3 separate regions of the Homo sapiens genome follow, and all the other regions are linked to region 2. Evidence: fine-mapped expression QTL. A gene starts in region 2. Each other region holds a variant in brackets. All regions are shown on one strand. Distances are between the middles of the regions. Region 1 has its middle 32 kb from the start of SGPP2. Region 2 holds the start of SGPP2 (sphingosine-1-phosphate phosphatase 2). Region 3 overlaps EPHA4 (EPH receptor A4).

Region 1 (11,629 bases), 32 kb before region 2:
ACCTAGGTTATTTCTGTCTGTTCCATGGTATTAGTCTGTTCCAGCTGATATAATAAAAATAATATATATTAGATGGCTTAAACAACAAACATTTATTTCTCATTGTTCTAGAGACTAGGGAGTCCAAGATCTAGGCAACAGCGATTTAGTATCTGGTGAGGACCTGCTTTCTGGTTCATACATGGCTCTCCTTTAGCTGTGTCCTCATATGACAGTAAAGGGCAAGACAGCTCTCTAGGATTTCTTTTATAAAAGCACTAATCCCACTCATGAGAGCTCCATCCTTATGACCTCATCACCTCCCAAAGGTCCCACCTCCAAATACCATCACAGTGAGAATTAGGATTTCAACATATGAATTTGTCGGGGGCAAAAGGGACACAAACATTCAGTCTATAGCACCCATCACCCTAGTGATTAATTTCTGTCTTCATAGTCACCTCTTGCTGCAAGATTGCTGTTGAAGCTCCAGCACTCAACTCTGTATTCCAGGAAGCAGGAAAAAGAATAATGTAATACTCCCCATTGGCCAGAACTTTGACAATGCCCACATGTATCTGAAAGAAAGACCAAAAAAGGTAATTATCAGCTGAGCACATTGCCACCTTGAATAAAACAGGCTCTAATTACTAAGGGAAAAATTAGAAGAGATGTTGGATAGGCAATTAGCACCCCAGTTACTGGTTACTATTAATCAGTCCCCAAATTCTAATCAACCATGGAGTTGCCTAACGCAAGTTGCTGCACTTCCAAGATTAAAGTAGGTTCACCAAGGCAATATCTCTACCAAGAAATTGAAAGCTTGCTGGGTAAAGTGGGGGTAAATTTTATAAAAGAAATGTAACTAAAAGGAAAATACAGTTGATCCTTGAGCTACATAGTCCATTTATAAGTGGATTCTCTTTGCCTCTGCCACCCTGAGACAGCAAGACTGAACTTTCCTCCTCTTCCTCCTCCTCAGCCTACTCAATGTGAAGACAATGAGGATGAAGAACTTTATAATGATCCACTTCCACTTAATGAAGAGTACGTATATTTTCTCTTATGATTTTTTAATAACATTTTTTCTCCAGTTTACTTTATTGTATGAATGTAGTATATAATACATATAACATGCAAAATATGTATTAGCTAACAGTTTATATTATTGGTAAGTTTTCCAGGCAACATAGGCTATTAGTAAAGTTTCAGGGGAGTCAGAAATTATACAGGGATTTTTGACTGTGCAGGAGGTCAGCACCTCTAACTCCTGTGCTGTTCAAGGGTTAACTGTGTAAGTCCAGAGATAAGTTTTAGATTTACTTTGACTCAGAGGTTCATGTGGACATTAGGTCTTTAGCCCTGTTTATTTTTGATTCTTAAAGCTGTGTCCTCCTCCAGCTTCACTCTCAGGATGACTTGGCTGTGGAAGTTAAGCTTCTGTCAATAGCTGCTAAGTCGTCTGTCTGCTCTTCCTTCCTTTCTTCCTTCCTTTCTTCCTTCCTTCCTTCCTTCCTCCCTCCCTCCCTCCCTTCTTTCCTTCCTTCCTTCTCTTCTTTCATAAATAAGGTATATTAAGTGTCTTAACTCAGAATTTCCCAGCTGTTTCCCAGCAACGTCAAAAGTACTAAAGTAGACAGAATAGTTTCTCCCTAAGATGTCCACATCCTAGTCTGCAGAACCTGTGAATATATCACCTTCTATGGCAAAACGGGCTTTGCAGGTGTCATTAAGTCAAAGATCCTGAGATGGGGTGATTATCTTAGATTATCCAAGAGGGCTCAGTGTCATTGCAAAGGTCCTTATAAGAGTGAGGCAGGAGGATCAGAGTGAGAGAAGGAGATGTGACGAGTGAAGCAGAGAGGAATGCAGGCAGTCTCTAGGAGCTGGAAAAAGCTAGGAATGGGTTCACCCCTAGAATGCCCAGAAGGAACTCAGCTCTGCCAATACCTTGGTTTAGCCCCGTAATACCCTTGGACTTCTAATGTCTGGAGCTGTAGGATAATTATTTAAGCCACTAAGTTTGTGATGCTTTGTAACGTCACCAATAGAAAATTAATATAGTCCTCAAACCAGTGCTTCAAATTATAATGTTCTATGAACTCGCTTTACACTATTTTAACTAAAGGGCCCAAATATTTTAATTCTATTTTTAAAGTTGTTTTCACATATTTAATAATTTTAATGTTAAGATATGTAATATCTGATAATGTCAAATAATATCTGCTAGATAGATAAACCCACCACCAATTAACACACTAGAACATTACCAATTTCATTCTGTGTGCTTCACCTGATCCTATCACCCACACCCCCAAAGGTGTGGGTGATACCTTGAATTATATATAATATATAAATATAATATATTGATATAATAATGTATTAACAATATATATTAGTGTATAACTTATATTATATATAACTATATTATTGTATATTAATATAAATTAATGATATATAATATATTAATTATATATTATTATATGTGATATAAAATACTTATATTTATACTGTATATATGTATATACACACATATATGTATATATGTATATATACACATATGTATATATGTATATGTATATATGTATACTGTATATATGTATATACACACATATATGTATATATGTATATGTATATATGTATACTGTATATATGTATATACATATATACATATATGATATATATCACATATATGTGATATATAAATATATTTATATAAATATAATATTAATATTTATATTATGTTATATATAACATGTTTATATTATGTTATATAAATATTATAAATATATATATTTCTATTTTATATGTATCACTACTCAAGACATCGCGTGTTCTTGTTTTTGAAAATTATAGTATTGTAAATTGTTCTCTACAAATTACTTTATGTATTTATTATTTTTAAAGAATTTTTTTAGATAGAAACAGGGTCTCACTATGTTGTCCAGGCTGGTCTCAAACTGGGCTCAAGCAATCTTGTTTCTAATATTTATCCATATGGTTATGTGAACTTACAGTTCATTTATTTTCACTACTGAAATATATTCTATTCTGAGACCATATCACAATTCATCCATTCTCCTACAGATGGATGTTTACAATACTTTCATTTTTTTGTTATAATTATGAACCATGCTATTATGCACATATTTGTACGTGCCTCTTAGTGCACATGTATAAGAGTTCTATTTTAAAGATAATGCAAAGTTGTTCTCCAAAGTGATAACAATTTCCATTCATATCAGCAATGCCAAAGTGCTCTCATGGCTCTAGCTAATCACCAGCCTGTAGTATTTTCATACCTCTTAATTTTTGCCATCTTATAGGCTTAAATAATGTCTCATTAGAGTCTTATTTTGCAGTTCTCTGATTACTAATAGTGTTTAGCATCTTTCCATTATTAAAGTTGCTCTAATTATGTGGTTCATGTCTTTTATCCATTTTCTGCTGGATGGTTTGTCTTTTTCTTATCGACTTGCAAATAATATGTTGCTAGTTATATAGCTTGTAAATATCTTCTCCCAGTTTTGGGCTTCTCTTTTCATTTTCTTATGATGTCTTCTGCAGTGCATAAGTTCTTAATTTTAATAGACTCAAATGTATCAATATTTCCTTTCATAATTAGCAGTTTTGCCTTATGTTTAAAAATCCTATCCTGAAAATATATTTTCTTACATAGCCTTCGAAACATTTTTAATCTTGACATTTCATATGCAAATCATGATCCACCTGAAATTTATTTTTGTGGGTGGTGTGAGGTATGAGTTCAGATTTATTTTTTTCCATATGGATAATTAGAGGCCAGCACCCATGTTGAATCTTCCATGCTTTTCCCAATGATCTGCAATGCCATCTTGTCACATTTAAAGTTTGCTTATGCGTGTGCATCTATTTCTGGGCTCTATGTTCAGTTTCATTGGTCAATTTTTCTCTCCCTGAGCCAAAACCAATAGACTTAATGATGCTGGCTTTGAAATAAGTTTTGACTTCTAACACTGTGAACATCTATAAAACAGGACAAAGACATGAGACAACAGCACAGGGCTGTGATCCTTAAGAGTAAGACACAGAAGGGGAGCTCCACATCCAGCTCTCTTTCTGCCTGTGGCATTTTCTAAGCCAAGGCATTGAGAAATGGAGCTTCAACAAAAGCTGTGCTCTTACTGGATGGAGGAACAAAGATCAGATTTGGGGGCTGCTGAGGCAACTGGAAGTTGTGACATAGGTGTTGGAAAGAAGGGAGATAATAGAGAAAGGCTTCTGTTTGGTTCAACACTAAGCTCAATCTCTGAAGGTTTCACAGAGCTGAGATCAGTAAAGTTATAGCCAGTTAGTGTAGAGAGATCTATTCGAACACTGTGGCAATGAGTTGAGATTCTAGAGGACTATTCTTATGGAGTAAAGCTACCCTAGCCTTAAAGTGAGGGCTTACGAAGCTGATCTTACAGCAAATTAACTCCCTACAAGAACAAGGCTCAGCATTCTTGAAGGGAGACAACAAAATCCAAAGTCCTAACAACTTAGTACAGATTGAGCATCCCGAATCTGAAACTCCAAAATTGGAAACTTTTTGAGCACCAG[C/G]ATGACACCACAAGTGAAAAATTCCACACCTGACCTTATGTGATGGGTCACAGTCAAATAAAGGCACACAACGCACAGTTTATTCAGCATCCCCAAGGGAAAACGACCCTCCCAGCCCCCTTCAGCTGTAATACATCTTTTCGGCACACACCCAGATTCTCCCTGCAAGCATGCCCACGATGAGTAATGAAACGACACACGTATGTACAGGCTGGATCCATGTTCCCCATGATGCTCCACATGGGGCCAAGACCTACATGCATTACTCACTGTGTTTTCTTGCTTATTCTCTGCACTGTGGTATAGATATTGTTGCAAATGTCAAAAAATCTTGCAGATATCCTTATGAGTACAGTGATAAGGAAAAGAGGAAGTATTTATGCTTATCCATAGCACAGAAAGTCCAGCTGTTGGAGAAACCAGCCAGTGGTGTAAGTGTAAAACATCTTACAGAAGATTATGGTATTAGAATTACCAGCATACATGCCCTGAAGAAACAGAAGGATAAACTGTAGCAGTTCTATGCTAAAAGTGATGAACATATATTAATGAAAGTGAAAAATGGGAAAATGCTGCATAAAGCTAAAAATGAAGATCTTGATCATGTGTTGAAAAGGTAGGTCTGTCTGTGTCACAAAGAACACATACAACTTAATTGTTTGCTAATCACAAAACCAGTAAAGAACTATCACAATGAACTGAAAAGTGAAAGGAACTGTAAATATTCAACAGACTGATTGCAGAAATTTGAGAAAGACATACTAATTTTTCTTAGCACATCTTGTTGTTGGCATTTCATTAATGAAGTTTATTTTTCTAAAAGAAATTTATTATCATTAAAATTATTATACATACAGAAAATGTATTAAACATATATGTGCATTTTACTTTTTATTTATTCTATTTTAATTATTTTATTTTATTTTATTTTATTTTAAGGCAGGTCTGGGTTTATTGCCCAGGCTGGAGTGCAGTGGCATGATCTGGGCTCCCTGCAACCTCTGCCTCCCAGGCTCAGGCAATCCTCCCACGTCAGCCTCCTGAGTAGCTGGGCCACAGGCACGTGGCACCACACCCAATTAATTTTTGTATTTTTTGTAGGGATGGGGGTTTTTGCCATGTTACCCAGGCTAGTCTTGAACTCCTGGACTCAAGTGATCCGCCCACCTCAGCCTCCCAAAGTGCTGGGATTACAGAGGTGGGCCACTGCACCTGGCCCTATGTGCATTTTAAAGAGTACTATCAAAGCAAACATCCATGTGAAGACCACCCAGTTTGGGAATGGTACTGGCAGTACCCGAGAAGTTCCCTCTATGACCTTTCCTTTTGAGGCAGGAAAATAGGGTCTGGGGGCAGGAAACATAAGGCCTATTGACACTTCAGCTATAACAGGAAATATCCTCTCCATAGGGCATACATCGAGTAAATGACTTTGTAACTTTACTTCATCCTCTTCATTTACATAGGGGGTACCCCAAGTGGAGGGTATTTAAACTCACAAAAACTCTGTAACAGGGCCTTTGAGCCCCTATGCTCGGGCCAGCTCCCATACTGTGGAGTGTACTTTCATTTTCAATAAATCCCTTCATTCTTTCCTTGCTTTGTGCGTTTTGTCTAATTCTTTGTTCAAGATGCCAGGAACCTAGATACCCTCCACCATTAACACTTTACAGATCTGCAAGTATCATCCACACTTTTGTAACAAACTTTTCTATGTGTTTCTTTATAGTTTCTTTTATCAGAATGCTTTTTATTTGTATTTTATTGTGGGAAAATCTTAATATAATCACTTGATCTCATTGTGTAATTTCTGATGAGCTCTATTGGACAAAGTGACTGGACATAACTTGTGATAGTAAATGGAAGAAGGAGTACATTTTCACCCTTAGGTGTGCTGTGGCCTTAGCATTAATTTCATAAATGTTTTCTTTGGACTCACTTCAGAGCCTCTGGGGTCAAACCCTACTTTGCTCACTGGTGGTCCCAGAATGATACCCAAAAGAGAGGTAGATATATCCTTTGGGGTTAACAATGAACAGAACCTGTAAAAATTTGAACCACTGCTTTAAATTTGTAAAGACTGCTGGTGATTAAGCATCTGCTGATCACAAAGCAGCAGAGGAATTCACTGATGAGTTCGTCAAGGTCATCGCTGATGAAAATCTGATGCCAGAACACATCTATAATACTGATGAATCAACACTTTTGGCCTTATTGCTCCAGAAAGACACCGACTACATCTGATGAGAAAGCCCCTACAGGAATTAAGGATGCAAAGACAGAATAACTGTGCTGGGATGTGGTAACACAGCAGGTATGCATGAGTGTAAACTTGCTGTGATAGGCAAAAGCTTTGCTGTCCTCAAGGAGTGAATTTCTTAGCAGTCCTTTATTATGCTAACAAAAGGCATGGATCGCCAGGGACATCTGACCTTCTTACATATTCAAGAAATGTATCCTTAAAATCCATCAATAAGCTGGAAGAAGGTGATAATTGAAAAAGTTTTTAACATCAATAACAAGGCTCCAGTTGTTTATTCAATGATCAATGGTGAAATATGACAAAACAGTTCCCAATCAAGATGATGATAATAGTGATGATGAAGATGATGTCAACACTACAGGAAAAGTATCTATTGACAACATGGTGAAAATGTGTGGTGGGCTTTTTGAAGGACTACAGCAGTGTATATTTATAACAAGACAAGAAACCTTCTCAGTTTATAAAATCAAGAAAAGACATCTAAGCAAAAACTCATTGTTAATGAGGCAGATTATTCTGGAGAAAACATTTTTAAAAGCCATCCTGCAGAATGCCTCTTCATTCCTAGAGGACCTATTTCCTGGTCCCTCAATTACTTTTGATGTTTCTTCTTACCAAACAAAAAAAAAGAAAAAGAAACACACTGTCTAGTAACCTTTTAGTCAAAGAAAAGCATCAGGTGGAGGTTGCAACCTATCACTGTTTGTTGTTGCCGTTGTCTAACAGCTGAGACAGGTATTCTGGTGATGCTACTGTGCTACTTAGTTATTCTGCACACAATATTTCTTCATTGTATTAATGGCATATCATATGTTTTAATGTTAAGTATTTATGTGTGAATAAGCTTAAGAAAATTATTGCTTATGAGTAGCATATCAGTTTAGAGCCAGGGATGATCGTGATGCCAAACAATCAGATTGTTCACATGGGTGGCTAAGATTGTGACAGCTTTGCTTCCTGGTGGCTCAATGCACAAAAACTTTGTTTCATGCACAAAATTGTTTAAAATATTGTGAAACTGCCTTCAGTCTACGTATATAAGGTGTATAGGAAATATAAATAAATTTTGTGTTTAGACTTGGGTCCCATCCCCAAGATATCTGATTATATATATGCAAATATTCCAAAATCTGTAAAAAAAAAAAAATTCCAAATCCAAAATACTTCTGGTCCTAAGCATTTTGGATAAGGGATATTCAACGTGTATTAACAATGACCAGCATACAAGCTAGGCATGGTGGCTCACACTGTAGTCCCAGCTACTCAGGAGGCTGAGGCGGGAGGATCACTTGAACCTGAAAGTTCAAGGCTGCAGTGAGCTATGATTGTGCCACTGCACTCCAGCCTGGGAGTGAGACTTCATCTCTAAAGAAAAAAATGGCAGAATACAATGAAAAAAATACTTGATATGCAAAGAAGCAGGAAAATGTGCCATAACCAGGAAAGAAAAATTTAGCAAAGTTCTCCCATCTTTGCATCCTCAATGGCAATGACCAGATGTTGAATTTAACAGACAAGCACTTAAAAATAGCTATTATAAATATATCCATGGATGTAAAAGAAAATATGCATATAATGAGACATAAAAATGGGGAATATTAATGTAGTAATGGGAATTCTAAAAATTAGTAATACCACATTTGAAACAAAAAAGTTATATTTTCAGGAAATAATAGATGGAATTAATAGCAGATTGAAAATTGCAGAGAAAAAGATCCATGCACTTGAATAAGAAACAATAGAACCTATCTGGATTAGTCTGCTAGTAATACATAGCAAAATACCACAGACTGGGTGGTTTAAACGAGACAAATTTATTTTGACAGTTCTGAAGCTGGAAGTCCAAGATCAAGGTGTCAGCAGGGTTAGTTTTCTCTAAGGCCTCTAACTTTAGATGACCACCCTCTTGCTACCTCTTCATATGGGTGTCTGCTGTGCACATATACCCTTGGTGTCCTTTCTCTTCTTATAGGACATCAGGCAGATTGGATAACTCTGATATTCTCATTTTATTTTATTATTTTATTTATTTTATTTTATTTTAATTATAGGCTTCTCAGCTGTCATATTTTCATTTTAACTCAGTCCCCTCTTTAAGACCTTATCTCAAAACTTGATTACACACTGAGGTACTAAGGGTTGGGAATTCAAAATATGAATTTGAGGTAGGGGCACAATTTAGCCCATAATACTATCTAAGAAGCTGAAGAAAAAAGATAGGGGGAAAAGCTGGAAAAAAAGAAAAAGAAAAGCATCTTAGTAACTTATGGCAAATATTAAGCATTCCAAAACATGTGGAAGTATAGTCCCAGAATGAGAGGATTCAAATATTAGAACAGAAAATATTTGGAGAAGTAATGACCAGAACTTTTCCCAATTTGATGAAAGATATCTGAAAGCTCAGCAAAACCCAAGCAGGCAAGTTCCAAAGAAAACCACACCTAGATATATATTAGTCCAATTCCTGAGTCTTAGAAGTAGCCAAAGCAAAAAGGTTTTACAATCAGGGAAGTAAACATAAGAATGACCACAGTCTTCTCATCAGAAAAAATGGAGACCTAAGCATAAGAAGATGACATCTGAAAAGTATTAAAAGGAAAAATCCCTGTCAACTCAGAATTTTTTTTTTGACAGAGTCTAGTTCTGTCACCCAGGCTGGAGTGAAGTGGCATGATCTCGGCTCACTGCAACTCTGCTTCCTGGGTTCAAGTGATTCTCCTACCTCAGCCTCCTGAGTAGCTAGGACCATAGGCACACGCCACAACGCCCAGCTAATTTTCGTATTTTTAGCAGAGATGGGGTTTCACCACATTGGCCAGAATGGTCTTGATCTCCTGACCTTGTGATCCTTCCGCCTTGGCCTCCCAAAGTGCTGGGATTACAGGTGTGAGCCACCGCGCCTGGCATCAACTCACTCAGAATTCTATATCCAGCTAAAATACATTGCAATACAAAAGCAAAATAAAGACCTTTTCATGTAAATGAAAGCTGAGAAAATTTATCTCAAAAGGCCCACATTGTAAGTTTTTCAGGCTTAAAGGAAATCCTACCAGCAGGAAAGTTGAATCTTCACAAAGGAATGAAAAACACAGAAAATGATAAATATATAGGTAAATAAAAATAAGTTTTGTTTCTGGTAGGACAAATCCCTTTATTCCTTCCCCTCCTCATCATTCTTCCTCTCTCACCTCTTCCTCCTTTGTCTTCAGGAGTAATATCTTAGCTATTCTTGGCTTTTTTTTTCTATCAGTTTTAGAATCAGCTTGTGTGATAGACATAGATTTGCTTTCATAGGCCTCCTTCAAGGAAGAATTTGCTGGCAGGCTGAAAGGAGTACAGTCAGCAGACAGCCCCCAAATATCACTTTCTTTAAGATTAGCCTCAGCTTCAGAGAACCACCTACACAGAGACTTGGCCTTTCCAGGGCAGCCTTTATCTGGTGATTAAGTGGGATGAGGAATATTTTGGCCTGAAGTAGGATGCTCTGAAGGGCAGTACTTTTCTCAGAGCTCACCACAGGGTTGGTTGAGACTTGTCAAGGCTGCATCAGAGTTTAACATCTTCCTCTGTCCAATCCTGCTTCCTCCCTGTTCCTTTCACACCTTCCTAGTTGATATGGTTTTGATCTGTGTCCCCGCTCAAATCTCATGTCAAATTGTAATCCCCAATGTTGTAGGTGGGGCCTAGTGGGAGGAGATTGGATCATAGGGGTGGATTTTCCCCTTGGTACTGTGTCATGATAGTGAGTGAGTTCTCTTGAGAGCTGGTTAAAAGTGTGTGGCACCTCCTCCCTCACTCTCTCTTTCTCCTACTCCTGCCATGTAAGACGTGCCTGCCCCCATTTCTGCTATGATTGTGGTAAGTTTCCTGACACCTCCTCAGAAGCCAAGAAGATGCCAGCATCAGGCTTCCTGTACAGCCTGTGGAAACATCAGCCAACTAAATCTCTTTTCTTTATAAATTACCCAGTCTCAGGTATTTCTTTATAGCAATGTGAGAACTGACTAATATACTTGTAAACATCTAGCACCCCAAACTCCATCTCAACATCTGCTTTTGGAGTACACAAACTATCAAGTCCCTTGAAAAAACTTATTAGAATTTTCATAGCAAATGAATTGATAGTATAGAACAAGTTAGAAGTGACATTTTTTAACACTGAGTTTTCATATTTATCCATATGACATATTTCTTCACTTATGTCTTCTTTAGTATCTTTCAATTAAGTTTTCACATTTCTTATTAAAGGTCTTGCCCATATTTTGTTAGATTATTTTCTCCTATGTAGCTAGGAGAAAATATTTTTGACTGCATTTATATATGCACACACATATATATGTTTAAAGTAAGTTTTCTGAAGGTTGCAAGTTTGTGAAACTGTAACTGGCTTTTGTGTATTGATGATATGTACTTTCTTATTCATACACAGGGCAGAAAGCTATTTTGATACCCTGACCACCAAACAAAAGGATTGAGCTTTGCTCTGATTGAATCACTGGGATCACATGCCCATTCCAAAATGAATGACTGAAGCTGGGAAAATGCTGCATGTTGATTGGTTGGACCTGGGTTACATAGTGCACTGATCTCTGTGGCAACAGAGGTAGAATTATGCAACTATTGGAGGCCAATCAGGAGCCACAGCAGGATCGCATGGCTAGGAAACTGAGGGTCTGATTAGGAAAGATGAGTGGAGGATTTGTTGCTCAGGAAGGGGCCCATTATGTCCACTACTCTGGAAAACACTTCTGTTGCTGTAGGACCCTGGATGCCCCAGTTCCACCAAAACACTGGATTCATTAGAGC
Region 2 (11,629 bases):
TTATATTTGTGGAGACCCTCTCTCAAAATAAGATGACATCCTGAAATATTAGGAATTAGGATTTCAACATATCTTTTTTAGGGTAGGGAACACAACTCAGTCCATAACAGATCATATGATTTTTCTCTTTAGTTCTATGAATATGATAGATAATATCAATGGATTTCTAATACTTAACTTATTTGCATTACTATAATGAATCTCACTTTTTAAATTAAAAAGTATTTTTTTAATGAGCTGCTGAAGTCTGACTCCTGATATTTTAAGATTTTTGAATGATTTTCACAAGTGATAGTATTCTGTCATTTTCTTTTGGTACTATTTCAGGTTTCAAGATCAATATATTGCTTCATAAAAGAAAATTTGAAAAATGTCTTCATCTATGATCTGGAATATGTTAATTAGCATTGTGATTACCCATTTTTTAAATGATTGATAGAATGTTTTTGTGAAGCCAGCTAGGCCTGGTGCTTTCCATAGAGGAGTATTTTAACCCCCTTTCTCTAGCTGTTTTATGATAATTAGTCTGGTTAGACTTTCTTTTCTGGGATCAATTTTAGTAAGTTGTGTTTTCCTTAAATAATATCTATTTCATCTATTTTTAAAACTTATTTTCATAGAGGTGTACAAAGTAGCCTCTAAGGCTTTTAAAATTTTTCCTCTGCTTTTAATGATTATTTTTCCTTCAGTATTTAAAATTTTGTGCTTTTGTTTTTCCTCTTGTTCTTTCTTTATTAGATTAGCTAATGGTTTGTCTATTTTGTTGCATTTTTTCCCAATAACTCTATTTTGCATTTGTTAGTTTCATTGTTTTTCTCTTTTCTAATTTAAGGATTTATACTTTCTTTGAAGAGGTCCATAATTTTGGCAGATTTTTGGGATAATTCTGATTCCAGATTTGAGAATTACAGCTGTGATACGTGTAGTTTTTAATAGAAATTGTCATCTGGTGCTCCATTTTTTTCCCTTTAGTATTGTTTTTATATTATTGCACGCGTTTTTCTCTGTGTATGCATCTTATATGTGTGCAACAGATGGAAGCTCCTTGAGGCCAAGACTATGCATTGTATTTCTTAGGGACAATAAATATTGATATTGTGGCTATGAAATTAGAGAATTAATGTAAACATGAAGAACTTGTAGTATGCAGCTTCTGAAAAGGCTCCCAAGAATCCCTACCATTTACTACTCATATTCTTGTCTCACTCCCTCTGTCCTTCAGTGTGGGCTAGATCTAGGGCCTTGCTTCTATGAAGTAGAATAGGATAAAACTATTGGAATGTTACCTCCAAGATTGGGCTATAAAATACTTCTATTTTGTCCTGTTCAGACACTCTGTATGTCTTGATTTCCTCATTTGCTTGTTTTGGTGAAGTAAAGGGCTGTATAATGAGCTATTCTATGAAGAGGCTGTATAATGAGCTATTCTATGAAATGGCCCATGTGTTGAAAAAGAGGGAATGGCCTGTGGCCAACAGTCTGCAGCTAATTGAATCTACCAACCATCGTCTGAGTGATCTTGGAAGCAAATCCACCTCCAGTTGAGCCTTGAGATGATGTAGCCTCAACCAGCACCTTGACTGTGACCCTGTGAGAAACCAGAGCCAGGGGACCCAGCTAAAACCACTTGGATTCCTGCTCTGCAAAAACTTTGAGATGATAAATGTTGTTGTTTTAAGCTACTATTTTTATGTGATAATTTGTTATGCAGCAATAGATAATCAATACAGAACCCAAATTCTGTATACTTGTCTTGATCCAGGAAGCATTGCCCAATTGAAAACTGAACAGTCTAGTTGTAATTTGGAAGTAACGTGCTTTGCAGAGAAATAACTCTAAATCAGAACTTAAAATGCAATAATGTAATTAATACCAAAATTTTTCATTTATAATGAAGGTATTTTGACAACACTTAAAAAATTACTTTAACTTATTAAAGGTTACCAGGTGTCCCTGCCCCCATTTTTTTTTTTTTTTGAGATAAGATCTCACTCTGTTATCCAGGCTGGAGTGCAGTGGTGTGGTCATGGCTCACTGCAGCCTCAACCTCCTGGCCTCAAGCAATCCTTCTGCCTCAGCCTCCTGAGTAGCTAGGGCTACAAGTTCATGCTACCATGCCTGACTAACTTTTACAATTTTTTTGTAGCAATGGAGTCTCCCTGTGTTGCCCAGGCTGGTCTTGAACTCCTGGCCTCAAGCAATCCTCCGCCTCAGCCTCCCAACGTGCTGGGATTACAGGCATGTATGCCTGGCCAATTGTCTTTTGGAATAACTTATTTTTAGTGTGGCTTCTTTTAAAAAATTCTATCTGCACATGAGTATTTATAACATGCCAAGTGAATGACAAGCTGCCTAGATAAAATGTGTAGATTATGGCTGAATTATAACATGGATTTTTACTGTACAACATTTTAACCAACATTAGTTTCCTAATACTGGTGGAGACTGCTGGTTGCCCACAAAAAAATTCTGTCCTCCACTTCTTCCACAGGAATATAGCTTAAGCTTGACATAAGGTTGCCCTGCTAGAGATAACATTTCCAATTGTTTCTCACTGATGGAATGTTAGTGAAAGTGATGTGTGAACTTCTGCCTCACTTGCTTAATAAGACATTGCTGCTCAGAACACTCTCTCTCTTCACCCTTTCAGGAGCTGAACTTCAGATGTTCAGCCCTAACCCAGATTCAACCATGCAAAAGAGGACGATGACCTAAGGCTCAGTTTCAGGGCATGGTGGAGCAATAAGATGAAAAGAACCAGAGTCATGGAGTAGGGCCATGGAGCAGAGCTTCCTACTAACCTCAACTGCTTGCCTTAGAACCATTCTATGAAAGAGAAATACATGTCTGTGTTCCTTAAGCCACTCTATTTTGGGGTCTCTTTGTTATAGTAGCTTAACCTTTATCCGAACTAGTATTAATATATCCATCATTGATTCCTTTTAAATATGTCATTTTGTAATTGTTACATATATACAAGTGAGCAAAGTACAAATAACTGGATTTCTGCCCTGGCAAAAAAAAAAAAAAAAAAAAAAAAAAAAGGTCGGGGGGCGGGATGTGAAATGTATTTCCCACAGGTATGACTAGTGTTCAGTGATCAAAGAACTACAGGGTGTTTCTCTGGTATCAAGAAAAAAAAATTTTTTGCATGACTGCAAGCTACTATTTGATATCTCTGCACCATTACAGCAGTCTTTCAGTCCTACCACTTCTCAAAGATGTTGATTTTTGTTAGGTTGGTTGGGAAATTCATGTTCAGAATAATCAGACTGGGCCTTAGAAAAAAAAGGTTCTGGGGAAATGGACTTTACCACTGCCCAGGAGGCTCAAGATGTCCTACTCAAGATGTTCAGAGCCAAATTCTCTTGAGGATTCCTTCCTAGATTGAATGACTCCAGCACAATACACCTTCTTATCATGATCTCACTAGGCCTTATAGAGCTTGTCTCAAGGTTATTTTTACAAGAGCCTTATAAGAAAGACAAGAAGTGAGGATTATCATTTCATTACAGGGATAAACTGCGACATATGGTGACTTACATCAGGTGACTTGGTGAGCCACTAGAAGCTGGAATCAGTAACTGATCCTCCATGGAGATAAAATGCTCTGTCTACAAATACAATTCTTTGGCAATTAACTTAATGCTGCGTGTGCCATGTTTTGCTTTGCCTATTTTTCCTAACTGGTAGAAAGAAAAATCGAAGCACTAAATTCGGGAGACACATGATGCAAGTGCCTTCACAGGAAAACATATTTCTTTAACACATAAGCAGAACAGGTCCCCAACGATCACAGCTCCAGCTTCTAAAACCAAACCACAGGGTTTTGCCTCACACCTGTAAATGACAGCCAGAAGCATTGTGGAGAGATGCTTCCACCTCCTGGGCCGGACATTTCTGTGTGTGATCCCGCCAGACATGACAATAACTCTGCGTGTCTTCTGTAAGAGGAAAATGGTTTCCCTTAAGAGCTTCAGCATTCTCTCAGTCCCCTTGACTTTGCTCTCCAGACAGGACTGAGAAGCAAGAAAAGTAGAAACTAGGGCATGAAGGGGACTACATCATCCTGGAAAGTCACATCCCAAAGACATTCAGGCCTAAAAGGACAACTGAATAAATAAGGCATTGACAGGTGTTCATTAATCATTTGTGCAACCAAATTCTTAGTAGGCTTTGCATGGACAATCAGGAAACATGCAGGTTTCTGCTGCAAACGAAAGACGGGGTTGAATTGCACTTTTGTTGCAGACTGATCACCTGGGCCTAATTTGATTGTTGCCTCCCAAGGGATCTCTGAGCCCAGGAGGGAAATGTAGGAGGGAGGAGGGAAAACCAAGGCCGGCCTGCAGGATGTTTCCTTTGCTATCTTCTGCTGAGTGCTCTAAAGCAGGTGCAGGTGCAATGAGATACCTAATCCTGTCCCCAGTCCTCCAGCACTTTGTTCTCTTCTCGTTTAAACTCCCTAAATGGTCTGGTGGGGTTTTCCCAGTGTCATTGCTTAAAGAGAGGCAGAGCGGAAAGAAAGAAGTAGGAGAAAGCGGTAAGCATCTTTGTTCTCAATGCGGAAAACCCAGAAGGGACTTTCCTTCCCACCCACCTGAAAATGTTCCCCAGTTGCCAAATCAGAAGGGCAGGGGCAGCGACGCGGAAGATGACTCAGGGCCCACTTTGAACCTCCTGGGTACTTGAGCAAGCTCAAGGGTGTTCGGACCTCTAGGGAGACGTTGCATCACGCAGTTTGGAAAGAACTTGGGAATTCTCCCTGGGGGGCTCGCTGTATTTACTGGGAACTAGTCTTGCAGGAAGGTGAGAGTACGTGGCTGGCTGTGGGGAGCTGGCGTGGGAGGAAATCCGACTTCACCTTGGGCTCAGAGTTGCAAGGAAGGTCACTGTGGGATCAGCCTGAGCCCAAAAGGATGGGCTAATGGGAGCGGCCGCAGGTGCACGCGCGCTCGGCCGCTCCCATTAGTGTTACGTCTGCCGGGGGAAGAAGGTGGGGTGGGGGGTTGGGGGCGCCGGGAGAAGAGAGGCGCAGTTCGGAGATCGGCACTCCTCCGTCCAGTTACAGGCGGTCCTGCCCCCGTGGCCGCCCGGGGCCGCCCAAGCCCTCCGGGACGGAGAGAAAGGGGGACGCGTTGCGCAAGGTGGAGGCAGACACCTGGGCGGGCGCTAGGACCCGGGCGGCGCACCTGTTGGCTGGGCCCGGGGCCCCGCCCGCCCGGCCTCCGCCCGGAGTGCGGGATCGGCGGGGGCGAGGCGGGAGTGGCGGTGCCAGCGGAGGGCACCGGCCCGGCGTGGCAGCGGCGGCGGAGCGCGGCCCCGGGCACACCATGGCCGAGCTGCTGCGGAGCCTGCAGGATTCCCAGCTCGTCGCCCGCTTCCAGCGCCGCTGCGGGCTCTTCCCCGCTCCGGATGAAGGCCCCCGGGAGAACGGCGCGGACCCCACGGAGCGCGCGGCGCGGGTCCCCGGGGTCGAGCATCTCCCCGCAGCCAACGGCAAGGGCGGCGAGGCTCCGGCCAACGGGCTGCGCAGAGCCGCGGCGCCGGAGGTAACCATGGGCAGGTGTTCGCCGGGTACGGGGAGGGGGCGGCTGCGGACGTGCGGGTCCCTGCGACTCCGCCACGCGGGGCCGGCCGGGCCGAGAGGGCGCCGTCCCCGGCAGTGACCCGGCTCCCGCCGCTGCGAGCGGACGGGGAGGCCTGGCCTTCCAGTAACCAGGATGCCACCCTCCAACGCTGCCAGGGGCAACCGGGTCTATTGAGATATCCCCAGACGCTTTCAATGCAGTCCATTTAGAGACTTCCCACTTTCAAAAGTAGTTAAATTCACGTAGATGCCAGCAAATATGTAAGAGTTACGTAATGGAACGGAGGAGCGGGGATGTCCTTGGCACTTCCCCGGGGAGACGTTCTTAGACTCCCCCCCACCCCCGTATTCTTGCATTTCCGCCCATCCCCCTTCCCTGATGCGCACAAATGCGGGTGCAGCCGGGCTCAGCGCGCTCCTCACCGCGCTGCACCGCCAGCTCTGGGCACAGAACTTGGGGCTCACACAGCTCCTAGAGAGATTTACAACCTCCCTGCACTACCCCCGGCGATGATGTCTTAACAGCAACTCTCGCTTGCCCTCCCCCAGAGTCTGGGGGTCCCTCCTGCCTGGTGGGTCTTTTATGGACCGACACCAGTGACTTCTAACAGATGCTTCTGGGAGGGAAGCTCGCTACGCTCCCGCTAGGTGTTCAAAGCGTGGTTATACAACCCACTGCGGCTTGGGGGGAACCAGCGTGCGTCGTCGTCGCAGTGCACAGGGACTTTAGGCAGCAGGGACCAGACGGGCTGCACTTGGCTTCTGGGGACGCATGTCTACCGGGAGCACTGGCAGCACCTGCCTTTTCCCTCGGCAAAGTCAAAAGTGTGGCGCAGGAGAACAGAAATAAACGTATTAATAATTCGAATTCCTTGTACACAGCCACATTTTGTTCTTCCTAGAAGGTTTTGGTGAAAGAAAGGTGGCCTTTACTTACGTGTAAATTTCTAGATGTAGTAACTGAGGAATTACGAAGAACCTGGCTTCTGTGTGGAATGGAATATTATAGGCATTGGATTACAGAATTTGTTTGGGAGGGTGAGGGTGGTTGTGTGTTCTACTCCAGAGAAATCCTCCTCTGTATTTTTTCCTCTTTATTGTTCCTTCTTTATCCCATGTGACATTCCGGTAACCTATAGATGAGTATGAGAACCCCTCTTTTTTCTCTTGCCTTGTCTTAAAAACGGGGCAGAGTAGGGGGGATAAGAAATCAGCTGGGCGTGGTGGTGCGGCCTGTAGTTCCAGCTACTCCGGAGGCTAAGACAGGAGAATAGCTTGAGGCGGAGGTTGCAGTGAGCCAAGATCACGCCACTGCACTCCAGCCAGGGCGACTGAGCGAGACTCCGTCTCAAAAAAAAAAAAAAAAAAAAAAAAAGACCAAAACAAACAAACAAACAAACAAAAAACAGTCCCATGGCTGAAACGTGCCGTGACATATTCGGTGCACACACTGTTTACACCCACAGGTAGACACGTGAGTTGCTTTCTGTTGCTCTCTTCACAAGCTTCTACCCTGTTTCTCTAATTCAGGAAGCTGAAAAAGAGTGAATTGTTCCACCAGTGCTTCTCAAACTGTTTTAAACATCACCCCTGGTAACTTAACTTTAAACTCCACAGTTGGATCCTCTTGACCTTTAAAAGCAAGCTAAGCAGATTTCTTACACAGTTTTATCTTCTTACTGCTTGACAATCCTGGTGGGTCTTCAGTGAGTGAAATTGTGGCGGTTTCCCCACACCCACCCAGCCAACACAGGACTTCTGCTTACAGATCATGTAAAAGCAAGAAAGCTGAATGCCCAAGATAAGAAATCATTGTGTTGGTATATAATGGGGGAAATCATAAACTTGAGAGTGCTTGATAAATGAAAGGTTAATTAATGTTTTTACAGGTGGGTTGGTTTCAAATGACTTGGGAAGATTAATCCTTTACATACACACATTGATTCCCCCCCTCAAAAATTATCTCTTATCTACACTCAGGCAATTTACAGGACTTTAAGGGGGCAGTTGTGAAAAGTGTGCTGCCCTCTCTGCAGGCCTTTGTACAGGCGTTGGCCTGCCTGAGCTGCCTGTCTTTTCTCTAAATATCCTCCCCACTCATCCTTCTATTTCCAAAGGTCAGTTCCTCCATGGGTGACTTCTCTGACCTTCCAGCCTAGCTCCCCCTGCTATAGTTTTTCTTTGCTTTCTGCATTTCTTCATTACAGCATTTATCACGTTGTTTAAATGTGCCTTTGTGTGGATATCTGATTATTCCCCGCCCCTCCAGAGGATGATAAACTCTAAGAATGCAGGCAACTTTTCTGTTATGGTCCTTATTTTTTTCTCATAGCCTGGCACGTAGGAGGGACTAGTGACTTTTGTGAATACATGCATGTAGATTGCAATATAAAATTATAGTTTTAAACTTTTTTTTTAAGAGACAGGGTCTTGCTGTGTCACCCAGGGTGGAGTGCAGTGGCACAATCATAAGTCACTGCATCTTCCACATCCTGGACTCCTGCAGTTCTCCTGCCTCAGCCTCCTGTGTAGCTAAGACTACGGATGCATGCCATCATCTGGTTTGTTGTTGTTGTTGTTGTTGTTATTGTTGTTTTTTGTAGAGACAGGGTCTCACTATGTTGCCAAGACTAGTCTTAAACTCTTGGCCTCAAGTGATCCTTCTGCCTCAGCCTTGCAAAGTGCTGAAATTATAGACGTCAGTCACTGTGACTGGCGATGTTTCGTTTTTCTTTAAAAAAAAATGAGTGAATGTTGAAAATCAAGTGATTTTTCCGCATAGCCTAGAAGGTAGCACCAGGACGTTGATTTAGGACCCTTCAAACAATAGAGAAGTTTTCTTCTTCATTTGAGTGACTTTAGATCTTAATGAATCTGATTTACCTTCTCACCTTTCACATTGTCTATATTTGTTTTAATTTTGAAACAGGACAAGTGTTTCCTGTTTTCAAGTGACTAAAAGTTTCCTCTACAAGTTCTCATTACACCACACGCTGCTAGCTTAAAGATTAACTGCATCTTTTACAAACCAGGAGTGGGCTTGGCTTGTACAAGCCTGTCATTGAATAAATTGGACTGGGCCTTAGAAATTGCCCAGTAGTCATGAATTTCACAGAAAGTCTGAGTCCTGAAGGGTTAAGAGATTTATTGAGGACTTCCAGGATATCCACACAGTCAGGGGAAGTCAGATCTTTTGACTCCCAAGTCTAAACTTCTTTCCTCTGTGCAGATTCCAGGGAAAATTCCAGGGCCTCACTGTATCTGATTCACTGAGGTGTGTCCTGTTGGTACTGGCTGGGACAGGGTGGAGATCGTGTGAAAAGAGGTGGTATTGCTTTCAGTTTGCAAGGGTATCTGACTTGCAAGAGTAACTGTAGGAAGCCATTTTTGGTTATTGCTTTGGGAGGCACTGCCCTGAGCAGAAGGCAGGATCCTAGGACTGGGCCAGGAAGGTAAAGGTGTGATGAGAATTTCATTTATTTGTCCTGGGGTAAAGCCAGCCTCGTATATAATGGTATTTTGATTTCTAACATTTTTGCTTACTCAATACAGTTGTATTTAGTTAGACTCTGCAGTGCCTTCCTCAGCAGTACATTAGACTAAGGATCATCTTTTCTAATATCCCTGTGTCCAGTACTTTTTGATAACTGCTCAGACATAGTTCTCACATTGACTTAGGGAGAGGTTCAAAGATAAGTTGTTTCTAGAAATCTTAGACTCCTAGTTTCCCTCTTGAAACATTTGAGGCTCTAAATCTGTTAATCTACGAAACCTTGATTTCATTGGTGTGCTAAAGTACAAATACTACATCCTGGAAACCAGGAGACCAGGATCTAGTTTTACCTTCATGTCATTTTGGACTTCTCTGAACCTCGGTTGTCCCATCTGCAGAATGAGCAGAGTGGGGGAAAAAAAACATGGTTTTCTTTTTTTTTTTTTTTTTTTTTTTTGAGACAGAGTCTCACCCTGTCATCCAGGCTGGAGTACAGTGGCTCCATCTCAGCTCACTGCAACCTCTGCCTCCTGGATTCAAACGATTCTCCTGCCTCAGCCTCCCAAGTAGCTGGGATTACAGGCATGCACCACCATGTCCAGCTAATTTTTGTATTTTTAGTAGAGATCGGGTTTTGCCATGTTGGCCAGGCTGGTCATGAACTCCTGACCTTAGGTGATGTGCCTGCCTCAGCCTCCCAAAGTGCTGGGATTACAGGCCACCTCCCAAAGTGCTGGGATTACAGGCTGGGATTACCGCACCCGGCCAAGAACCATGGTTTTCTAACCATGGCTGTACAGTATAGTCACTTAGAGAAGCTTTCAAAACAAAACAAACATAAACCAATGTCCAAGATCCAGGTTAGAAGAGGGGTCCAGAGAAGCTGACCAACAAAGTTGGGAAGCTCTGAGTTCTCTTCTCCTGGGACCCACCACCCTTAGTATATTCAGTAGGAGGGTGGTGATGGCTGCAGGCAGTGGTCATGGCAGCCGTGACATTTTGGCTTCACCATAACTAAACTGGCCAACAGATCAGACTGCAAGTTTTTATTATCCTTTATTGGATGCTTACATCTGAAATGACAAAATGAGATAGTTCGAAAGAATATATTTGATCTTTTTTTCTAGTTACAGATATCATCATTGTTCACAGGAGAAAACTTGGAAACACACGAAGAGAAAGTTAAATTCATGCCCGTTATATCACCGCCCATTGCTAATCACTTAGTAAATGTTCAGCCCAATTTTTAATGGCCGCATGTTCCTCCACAGGATGGATATACTGTAATTTAGTCAGCTAGGTGCTGTGCTTTTGGTTTGTTTCCAGTTTTTGCATTAAAAATGATAACATCTTTGTACAAGTATCTCTCCACCTGTCTTTGATTATCTTCCAAATAAAATGTCCAGACTTGAAACTGTTGAGTGAAAAAAATGCATATATTATTGCTCTTAATAGCTACTACCGAATTGCCCTACAGGAAGAGTCTGCTAGGGCAAACCACTACGAGGGCAGGTTTTCCCACACACTCACCAATGTTAGGTGTTAAACCTCTCTTTAATCTTTGGAGAAAATAAACCACTTTGGCTTCTATCTCACCTTTGCTTTCTTCATTTCCAGTCAACATCCATTGATCACTACCATGTTTCTGGGACAGTCCTCAGACTTAGAGACATAAAGATCAATACAATTTAGTTTCTTCTGTGTGAAAGCCCAAATAAAAGGATGCAGTGCAAAAAATAAAAAAAATACTAGAATAGAACGATGAATACAAGGACAGGAAGACAATAGCAGGAGTAACTCACCTTCCCAGGGGAGCCCATGAAGTCTTGAGTTGGGGCTTAAAGAGTGGGTAGGAATCAAACAGGCAAAAATGGGAGAAGCTCTTTCTTTACCTGGATTCTCATGTGCTAGAACATAAAGACACGTGTCATTTTTGGTGAATGATGACAAGTTCAGCTTGGATATCATCAGAGTGTCAGCAGGAAATAGTTGGTCTACTTAAAAAGGGTGATCGAAACCTTAAAAATAGTTAAAATGGTACATGTTATGTATATTTTACCTTAATTTTCTTAAAGAACATAGGCTCTATTCCACCTTTTAGGGAAGGAAGCATAGCTCTCTATTTCTTTTCTTCTTTTTTGAAAAAAATAGAGACAGGGTCTCACTATGTTGTCCAGGCTAGTCTCGAACTCCTGGGCTCAAGCGATCCTCCTGCCTTGGCCTCCCAAAGTGCTGGGATTGCAGGCATCAGCCACCACAGCCAGCCTCCCTATTTCTTAAACATGGGCTGCACATAGTGACTTCCTTCCAAAAAGTGCGATATAGAAAGAGAAGGGGGAAAAAAGTAATTTTACAGTGTAGAAACTTGACAGACACTCCCTTGGCCAGATGATCAAGGTCAACATCACCAGTGGTAAGTCATGTTGACATCATGTTCTCTTGATGCATATTAAAATTATGTATTCTTGTTACATGTTGAGGGTCATTCTGCAAAATATCTGACCAGTACTCTTCAAAACTGTCAAGGTCATCAGAAACAAGGAAAT
Region 3 (8,000 bases), 950 kb before region 2:
CTGGAGGATTCGATTTGGCCCTTGGGCCATAGCTTGCTGACCCCTGCTTTAGGGCACTAAAGGAAGCAAACATTTGTGTCTTAAAAATATCATCATTTGGCCAGGTGAGGTGGCTCACACCTGTAATCCCAGAACTTTGGGAGGCTGAAGCAGATGGATGCACTTGAGGCCAGGTATTTGAGACCAGCCTGGGCAACATGGAAAACCCCATCTCTACTAAAAAATAGAAAACTTAGCTGGATGTGGTGGCGCCCGCCTGTAATCCCAGCTACTCAGGAAGCTGAGGCATGAGAATCGCTGGAACCTGGGAGGCAGTGGTTGCATGAACCGAGATCACATCATCTCATTTAGGTTTAGTATTCCAAAACAATTCTCAGAATCAGCAGGAATGTGCTTTCTGCTTGTCCCTTTGATCTCAGACCACAACTCAGGTCCACTCCAGAGGTGCCCCTCATACCTAACTGTGGGCCAGAACCACTCACTGTCACAACCTGTCTTTCAACACCTTCATTTCAGGCCAAACTGGACTTCCCAACATCTCATCTTTCTCCCTTGTCCTTTCTGTTTTTAGGGATGATTATGCAATAGTCTTGTTGTCTGACAATTGCATTTATCTCAACATAGTCAGAGGCAGATTTTTATTTACCGAAGCTAAAGAAGTTTGTATGGACCCTTTCTGAAGCTCTGTTACTAGTCTGACATTTGTAATTTTGTAGGGTTTTATGTTTTCACCCTTAATCACACAATAGTTGTTTAAGCTTTAAACTCCACAAAGTCTGGCTCTGCCATGCCTACAGCATATTACCTAAATTGATTGCTGTAAGATTTTCCCCTTTCTCCCACCATTTTCTTGAAGCTTTCCTCTTACTATCTAGAAGACAGGTAGCAATTATACCCAGTGGGGATGAGAATTCCCACTGTTCTCCATTATCCCACTCAAATAACATAATATGTCTAATTAAAAGATGGCAGAGAGAGAAAGAATGGGAACTTACCAGTTGAATAATAAAAGACAGTGTGCCTCTTACACTTAGTTATTTCTTTTCTTTATTCATTATTTTGGTTTTATTAAATTTATCATTACTTGACAAAGAGAGTTAACTGATTTGATTTTACTGTAAATAAATGTTAATCAACAAACAGATGGAACTGTACAATGACTACATGTGGCACAGTGGCATTATAATGAGGTGTAATGCCACTTTATTTTATTATTATTATTATTATTATTATTATTTTGCAGTTAATGCTTAATTGTCCAACCCTAGAGAACAAGGTCAGCCTAACAAGCAGCGCCCGTTCATCTGATGGCAAAACAGCTACAACAGGATTCATGAGGGGCCTTGAAAGGCCCTTTACAACTGCCTGTTCTCTGAGAACAGTAACGGGAGCATCATGCTTTCAGCATGGGGCAATGGAGCCAGAGAAATGTGGAATCTTCCCTATGTGTTCAGCCACAGGCCAGCTCAAGCAAAGGCCACATGGCTATGGAACCCTGAAATGGTGGGCACTGCTATGAAGTCTGTTCTTAAAAACTATTGCTAGAACAGAGTTTTTCAGCCTTAGCCCTATGGACATTTTGGACCAGAAAATTCTTCATTGCGGAGGATTGGGGATGCTGTGTTGTGAATTATAAGATGTTTATCAGCCTGCCTGGCTTCTACCCACTAGATGCAACTGCACCAAAAATTGCCTCTAAACATTGCCCATTAGGGGTAGGAGCAGAAATCACCCCCAATTTAGAACAACTGTTCACTATCTTACTGTTTTCCCCCCGCAACGTAAATCCCTTGGCAAGGCAAGGAATTAGAGAGAAGGAGGGCAGGCAGAATTCAGGTGATAATTCTGCTGAAGCATTTGGAGAATGTTTTCCCACTCTTAGAATTGCATTGAGAGACCATTTCTAAACATGTTAGAAGAATAAGCCTTACTTCTTCAGGTTCATAGCCCACAGCTCAGGGTTACATACTTAGAATCATAGAATTTTGAAACGGAAAAGATCTTAGAGATTAGCTGGTTTAAATAATTACGTAATGCATCAAATATTTTAACTCCTCCAAACTAAGCATGCTACAGATGTTTGTTTGTCACTAGGACACCATAGCTGTGCTAGAGAGAGATGACCAGATCTTTCCATTATGAAGTATCTAGAATAGCATCACATGCAAAGTAAAAATAAAAAATGGACAACACCGGCCCTGGGTGCAATTTGGGGTGAGGAGGGAACACCATTCATGGGGGTTGGGACCATAATGATTTAAAACGCCAGAATATGGTCCAGCCTCACAGCTAGAAAACCAAGCAAAGGCGATGGGAGATGAACGGCAAAAAACCGTTCAGAGATATTAAGCTACTGCTGGCTGCCATCACAGCCTTTTTAACAAAAAAAAAATATTCACAGGTCTGTTGCTTGGCCAGAAAACCTTGTTTCATTTATACAGTATTTCTCCCTCCTAGTGACACATCCTGTATTCATTTGCCTGAGATGGTCCACTTAAGTGAAAGTAAACCAAAGGAAAGCCATCCAGAAAACAAATCACCCAGCAGTTTGCTTATCCATTTTTCATAAACATCAGGACTACCTGCTTCTAAACAAAAGACAAAACAGTCGCTACAGGATGAAAGATGAAGGAAACTGGAATCTCATTTTCCTCCTTTTGGCCTGTAATGTAGAAAAGTAACTATTGGGGGAGCTCCAAGAGCTTCCTCTTCTCCAATTTTACTGGGTACGACTTCAGCTGGAAAAGTAACACCCCCACCCTTACTCTTTTCCCACCTCTTCCCTTCATTGTTTCTGGCATGGGGGTGAGGCTGGGAGTGACTCATCTCATTAGAGAATTTGGGAAAAGTACTCTGTCCTCAGCTCCACCCACTCTCAGACCTGTCTATCTGCCTATCTGCCTATCTGCCTACCTGTCTGCCTGCACAGAGTGTCCTTCCAACAACCTTAGCAGGGCAGGCGGAGAGGCTGCAGGTAGCCAGCTGGGCTGCAAGTGTCACTGAAGCAAGCCCTTTTGGCCACAGATATAAAGCTCACATCCTTCCATCAGCTTATCAGCAAAAAGCTGACAGACATTCAGATTTCCTTTGTCTTCTGTGTCAACTGGTTTTCAACCCAGAAGGGGAGCAAAAGGGTGTTTATTAACCCCCTAAGACCCCAGGAGTAAGATTTGGGTTAGGATTGTTTAAATAACCTTGTGAGAACACAGGCCCATTCACACCACATTCTACAATTAAATGATCAAAGCCCAGTTCAATCTCCATGTCCATGCCCAGATACTCACATAATCTGGTCTCATAAATGGGGAGAATGCCAAGCTGAATACATGAATGCCATTCATTATCTCCTAATTTTAAAGGAAAGCAACTTTCTACTTTCAGGAGTAGGATTCTCCCTGCTTTTTAGTACTGGCTCTGACATTAGCATGGGTGAGTCACCTCACCTTCATGGAGCTGCTCCTCAACTCTTAAAGTCTCAAAGGTGGTGAACATAGGACCCAAGAATTCTAGCAGGTTTTGCGTGATTGATTTGATTTATCATTTCTAACATATTACTGATGAGAGAAAGAACCCTGTGAAAACAGAGCAAAGATGGAGAACCACTAACTTTTGTAGCCTCCAGGTGCTAAATGCTAACGTTCATTAATTCTATGTATTCCTTATAGAGTGAGACACCATTGCCTATAGTGGTCCTCAAGGAATTTAATTTAATGAAATGATAGGAGCAATTGCAATTAGAACATAATTGTGTGTATGTAAATATGCTTAGGGGAGCTTCGATAGAGTTTACGGTTGCTACATTCACCCGAATTTTGGCCTACATTATTAATTTGCACTACTATGAAGAAAGGGTTTGTTAATCAAAGATAAACTATCCTGATGACTTGAATTAGAGAACTTCAAATTATGATAGGATAATGAAGCAGTGCTCTGCACATATACAATTCTCTACTAAGTGAAAGCTTTCTGGCTGGCCACATAGGAGGTCTCCTTATTGAAAGATTTATTTTTAATTTTGAACAGCTTCCCAGCATTACCCTTCATGAAAATTAAAATAAG[G/A]AGCTGGAATTTTGTCCTGTTCAGCAAACCTCCTTGGCAGGACTACATGCCATGGCAAAGAAAACCTTATTGTGTCAGAGTAATTCTCTGTCTGCTTTTCTCCTAAATCTAGAAGAATTATACCTACATTTAAAATAAAACTTCATCCCACCCCACCCCACCCCACCCCCGGAAATGTTTTTGCATTTTCTTCTTTTGGAGGATTTTAGTGTGTCTTCTTTGTGCTCTCTGGACCTTTTGCCCCAGTAGGTGTTGACATAACTTCTTGGCTCAAATCCCTACGTGTACAGGGGGTCATAGAAGTCTCCCCCAAAATCTGTGGGAGCCAAGCCTGTCCTCAGCGCATCTCCCACAGGCTTTTCTCTGCCAAGGAGAATGACTTCACCTTTTACAGATGAGGCTCCAAAAGTCCATCCCTACTTATAATTCGGTTAAGAAAATGATGTAGTGCTTGCGAATGAATAGCCAAAAAGGTAGAAGGGGGCTGCATGTAAGAATACTGATTGGATCATCAACCAGATTCTCCAGATGGTGCAGAAATCGTTCTGCATTGCATCAGCTCCTAATTCAGAGAGACCAGCAGCACCGATGCGTGTTCCCAGGATCTGTATGTAATATTTCCATTGCATTCTTCCAAAAGAGAACTAATAAACTGTTGGCAATCACAGAGTACTCATGTTTCTATCAAAAACTCCTAAATCATACTAGTCTTTGTAGAAAAATAAAACTAATGACTGCGAACAGTGTTCACAACCTAAAAATTCAGAATTAAAAGACAAAGGCCTAGCTGGATGACCCGTTCACATTAGATATTTTAAAAGACTGTTCACATTTGCAGAGCTGAAGATACATTCCGGTAAGACTTGCCATTCTAGCCCCTGCTCAAAACCTTCCCCAAGTCTTAACTTTTTATTTATTCCAAAGAGTTCAGGGCAAAATGGAAAAATAATGGCTTTGGATTGGGACACTGGAATAGTTTTCACTTATAGGATCAATTAGTACAGATATTTTACTAAACTATTGAGTGCACTTACTGAAACATTCATTTAAAAGAAAAGTGCAGTTAGAGGCGATAGGATTGTTGGCAATTTATAATCCTTTTCTGGCTATGTTTTCTATCCCAAGAGCCTCACAAAGAATAAGCCACTCTAACTCTGTTTCCCTTCTCCTCTCTAACTCTCCAGAAATAAAAAAGCCGGCAATGTAAAACTCCTGGAGGGGTGGTAACTTTTTCAGGGAAGGAGTACAGATGAGTAAGTCAGAAGCGAAAGCCTAGAAACCTAGATTTTCAAAATATTTGATATTCAAGATTTCATGACAGTTCTGCGATTAACTCAGTAGAAACACTTCATGAACAGGAAATGTTTTCTAGTCATCTGTATTAGCAGAAAGTGATGTAGGAATTGGAGGAGACTGGCCGCCCCACCCTCCGCCCCACCCTCCCAGCCCCCACGTCAATCAAGAAATCAACTATAAAAGTAGCTGCAATCACGCCTGTAATCCCAGCCCTTTGGGAGGCCAAGGTGGGCGGATCACGAGGTCAGGAGTTCGAGACCAGCCTGGTCAATATGGTGAAACCCCATTTCTACTAAAAATACAAATAAAAATTAGCCAGGTATGGTGGCACCCGCCTGTAGTCCCAGCTACTCGGGAGGCTGAGGCAGAAGAATTGGTTGAACTCCAGAGATGGAGGTTGCAGTGAGCCGAGATCACGCCACTGCATTCCAGCTTGGGCGACAGAGTGAAACTCTGTCTCAAAAAGAAAAAAAGAAAAAAGTAGCTGCAAAACTATTAAGTGTCTTAAAGTAAACTTCGTTAACTATAGACACAAAGATGTACATGGAGGTTCTAGTATAGGTCCACCTAGATCATTTATAATATTTTACATTAAAGCATAAGATCAAAACTATTGCTGCTAATGCTTTTGTTAGAAAATATAACAAATACCAAAAGAGCACTCTGCATTGGTAAAAATCAATTTTATAATTGTACATAATCTATAAGTGCTCTGATGTCCAGCCATGGACATCATAATTCAAATGACTGAGATGAATCCCATCCAGCATGGAGTGACTCAGCTCACTGCAACCTCTGACTGCTGGGCTCAAGCAATCCTCCCACCTGAGCCTCCTGAGTAGCTGGGACTACAGGTTTGTACCACCATGCCTAGCTAATTTTTGTATTTTTTTTGTAGAGATGGGGTGTCATCGTGTTGCCCAGTCTGGTCTTGATCAAACTCTCAGGCTCAAGTGATCCACCTGCCCTGGCCTCCCAAAGTGCTGGGATTACACGTGTAAGCCACCGTGCCCAGCCCCTAAGTATCTTTTACATTATAACGCAGCTCCCAGGCTTGATTGATTCTATTTCAATTATAGCAATTTATTATAATTCATTATTTTAAGCCTTTTCTCTGTATACATTCAGATCATACAATAAAGTAGATTCAATTCCTACCTGCTTGGTTGGTGGTCACAGTGACAGAAACTGATTGGTCTGGGTTAGGGTTATATTTGGACACTCCATTCACAGCCCAGATTTCAAAGGTGTAATTGGTATGAGCTAGGAGGTCAGTGATGGAGACTTTGGTGGTCTTCAAGCCATTCTGCTGTGGGGTGTAGTGGACCCCACTTCCACAGGGTCGGCACTTGCTGGGGTCACCAGCTCCACATTTCTTGCATACCACATTATAGGAAATGTCCTGGCGGCCACCTGTATTCTGAGGGCTACTCCATTCCAAGTTCACAGATGTCTCGTTGACATTTGAAATCAAGTTCAGGGGAGCAGATGGTGGACCTGGAGAAAGAAAACCACATCATCACACCAAGAACCGAAATACCCTTTTGGAATCTCTCAGAGTTTGTATTATTTTCTGCAGCTCTCCAAAGCAAGGCAAACCCACTTGGCAAAGAAAGCAAAAAGCAAATCAAGCCAGCATAAAAGATCTTTTAAAAGAACAATATAATAGAAGGCTGTTACGTGAGTGTCATTCTCTTTCCCACGCAAACAAACAAGGCATCGGTTGTCACTTTGAGATGTGAAGCAACTCTCCAGCAAATGGGCTCCAAGCCCAGGCTTTCCCTATGAAGTGGCAGAAAAATATCATAATTTATCTGTTCCATCTTATCATCTAAAAAAATGAAAGTGATTCTAGTTCCCAGGGCCGTTGTGAGACTCTGATAAATTAATAGTTATATACCACTTCTGAAGGTAAATTATAATTCCTAAGTACAGCATGTCATCAATAGCAAATAAAATTAACAGAACTGTAGAAATGTGCCTCTGCAGTTCAACATGGCAGCGGAGGGTTAAGCTGTTTATGGGTAATTAGTACGAACTGGTTTAACGCGGTTGCAGAGATGTTGAAGATACAGCTGTGGCGAGATGGCAGGGGTTTTGTTCAAGGCTCCCAGACCCCTCCTCCTGCCCTTTAACTCGTGCATTCCCAGCAACATCAAAGAGTTTCTGAAATATGGGTGATGGCAGTGGTTGTTATGAAACAGAACAACTGATTACCGACAACATACTGGTTGGTTAAAAAATAATATTAATAATAAAAAATAAGACTATAGATCATGATGAAACTCTTGTTTCTTGATGTAGATTTGTGTGTGTGTGTGTGTGTGTGTGTGTGTGTGTGTGATGGAGTCTCGCTCTGTCACCCAGGCTGGAGTGCAGTGGTGTGATCTCAGCTCACTGCAACTTTCACCTCCCAGGTTCAAGCGATTATCATGCCTCAGCCTCCCAAGTAGCTGAAAATACAGGTGTGTGCCACCACACCTGCTATCTTTGGCGGAGTTTGGCCATGTTGGCCAGGCCAGTCTTGAACTCCTGATTTCAAGTGATCGGCCTACCTTGGCCTCCCAAAGTGCTGGGATTACAGGTGTGAGCCACCATGCCCGGCCATGATTGGTCTTAATAGGGCAAAAAAATTGTGACACAAA

Evidence for each region.
Region 1: its variant is fine-mapped to the expression of SGPP2 in whole blood (TOPMed, PIP 0.95).
Region 3: its variant is fine-mapped to the expression of SGPP2 in monocytes after LPS (Fairfax 2014, PIP 0.95).

Annotation. Positions count from the first base shown.
Region 1 is chr2:222,387,179-222,398,807 of GRCh38, forward strand. No RefSeq gene overlaps it. Among named protein-coding and RNA genes, the nearest start is that of SGPP2, 32 kb to the right of the region's middle. RefSeq lists an enhancer at 6,574-7,171. The variant C/G (reference allele first, on the strand shown) is at 4,561.
Region 2 is chr2:222,419,270-222,430,898 of GRCh38, forward strand. It overlaps SGPP2 (sphingosine-1-phosphate phosphatase 2), which reads left to right and starts at 5,274. Exons shown (of 5, transcript NM_152386.4): 1 at 5,274-5,552. The coding sequence starts at 5,334. RefSeq lists enhancers at 4,518-4,817, 6,008-6,157, 6,208-6,267, 8,416-8,485, 8,696-8,815 and 1 more and silencers at 4,978-5,327, 5,418-5,647, 5,658-5,707.
Region 3 is chr2:221,475,839-221,483,838 of GRCh38, forward strand. It overlaps EPHA4 (EPH receptor A4), which reads right to left. Exons shown (of 18, transcript NM_004438.5): 5 at 6,514-6,852. Among named protein-coding and RNA genes, the nearest start is that of EPHA4, 92 kb to the right of the region's middle. The variant G/A (reference allele first, on the strand shown) is at 4,060.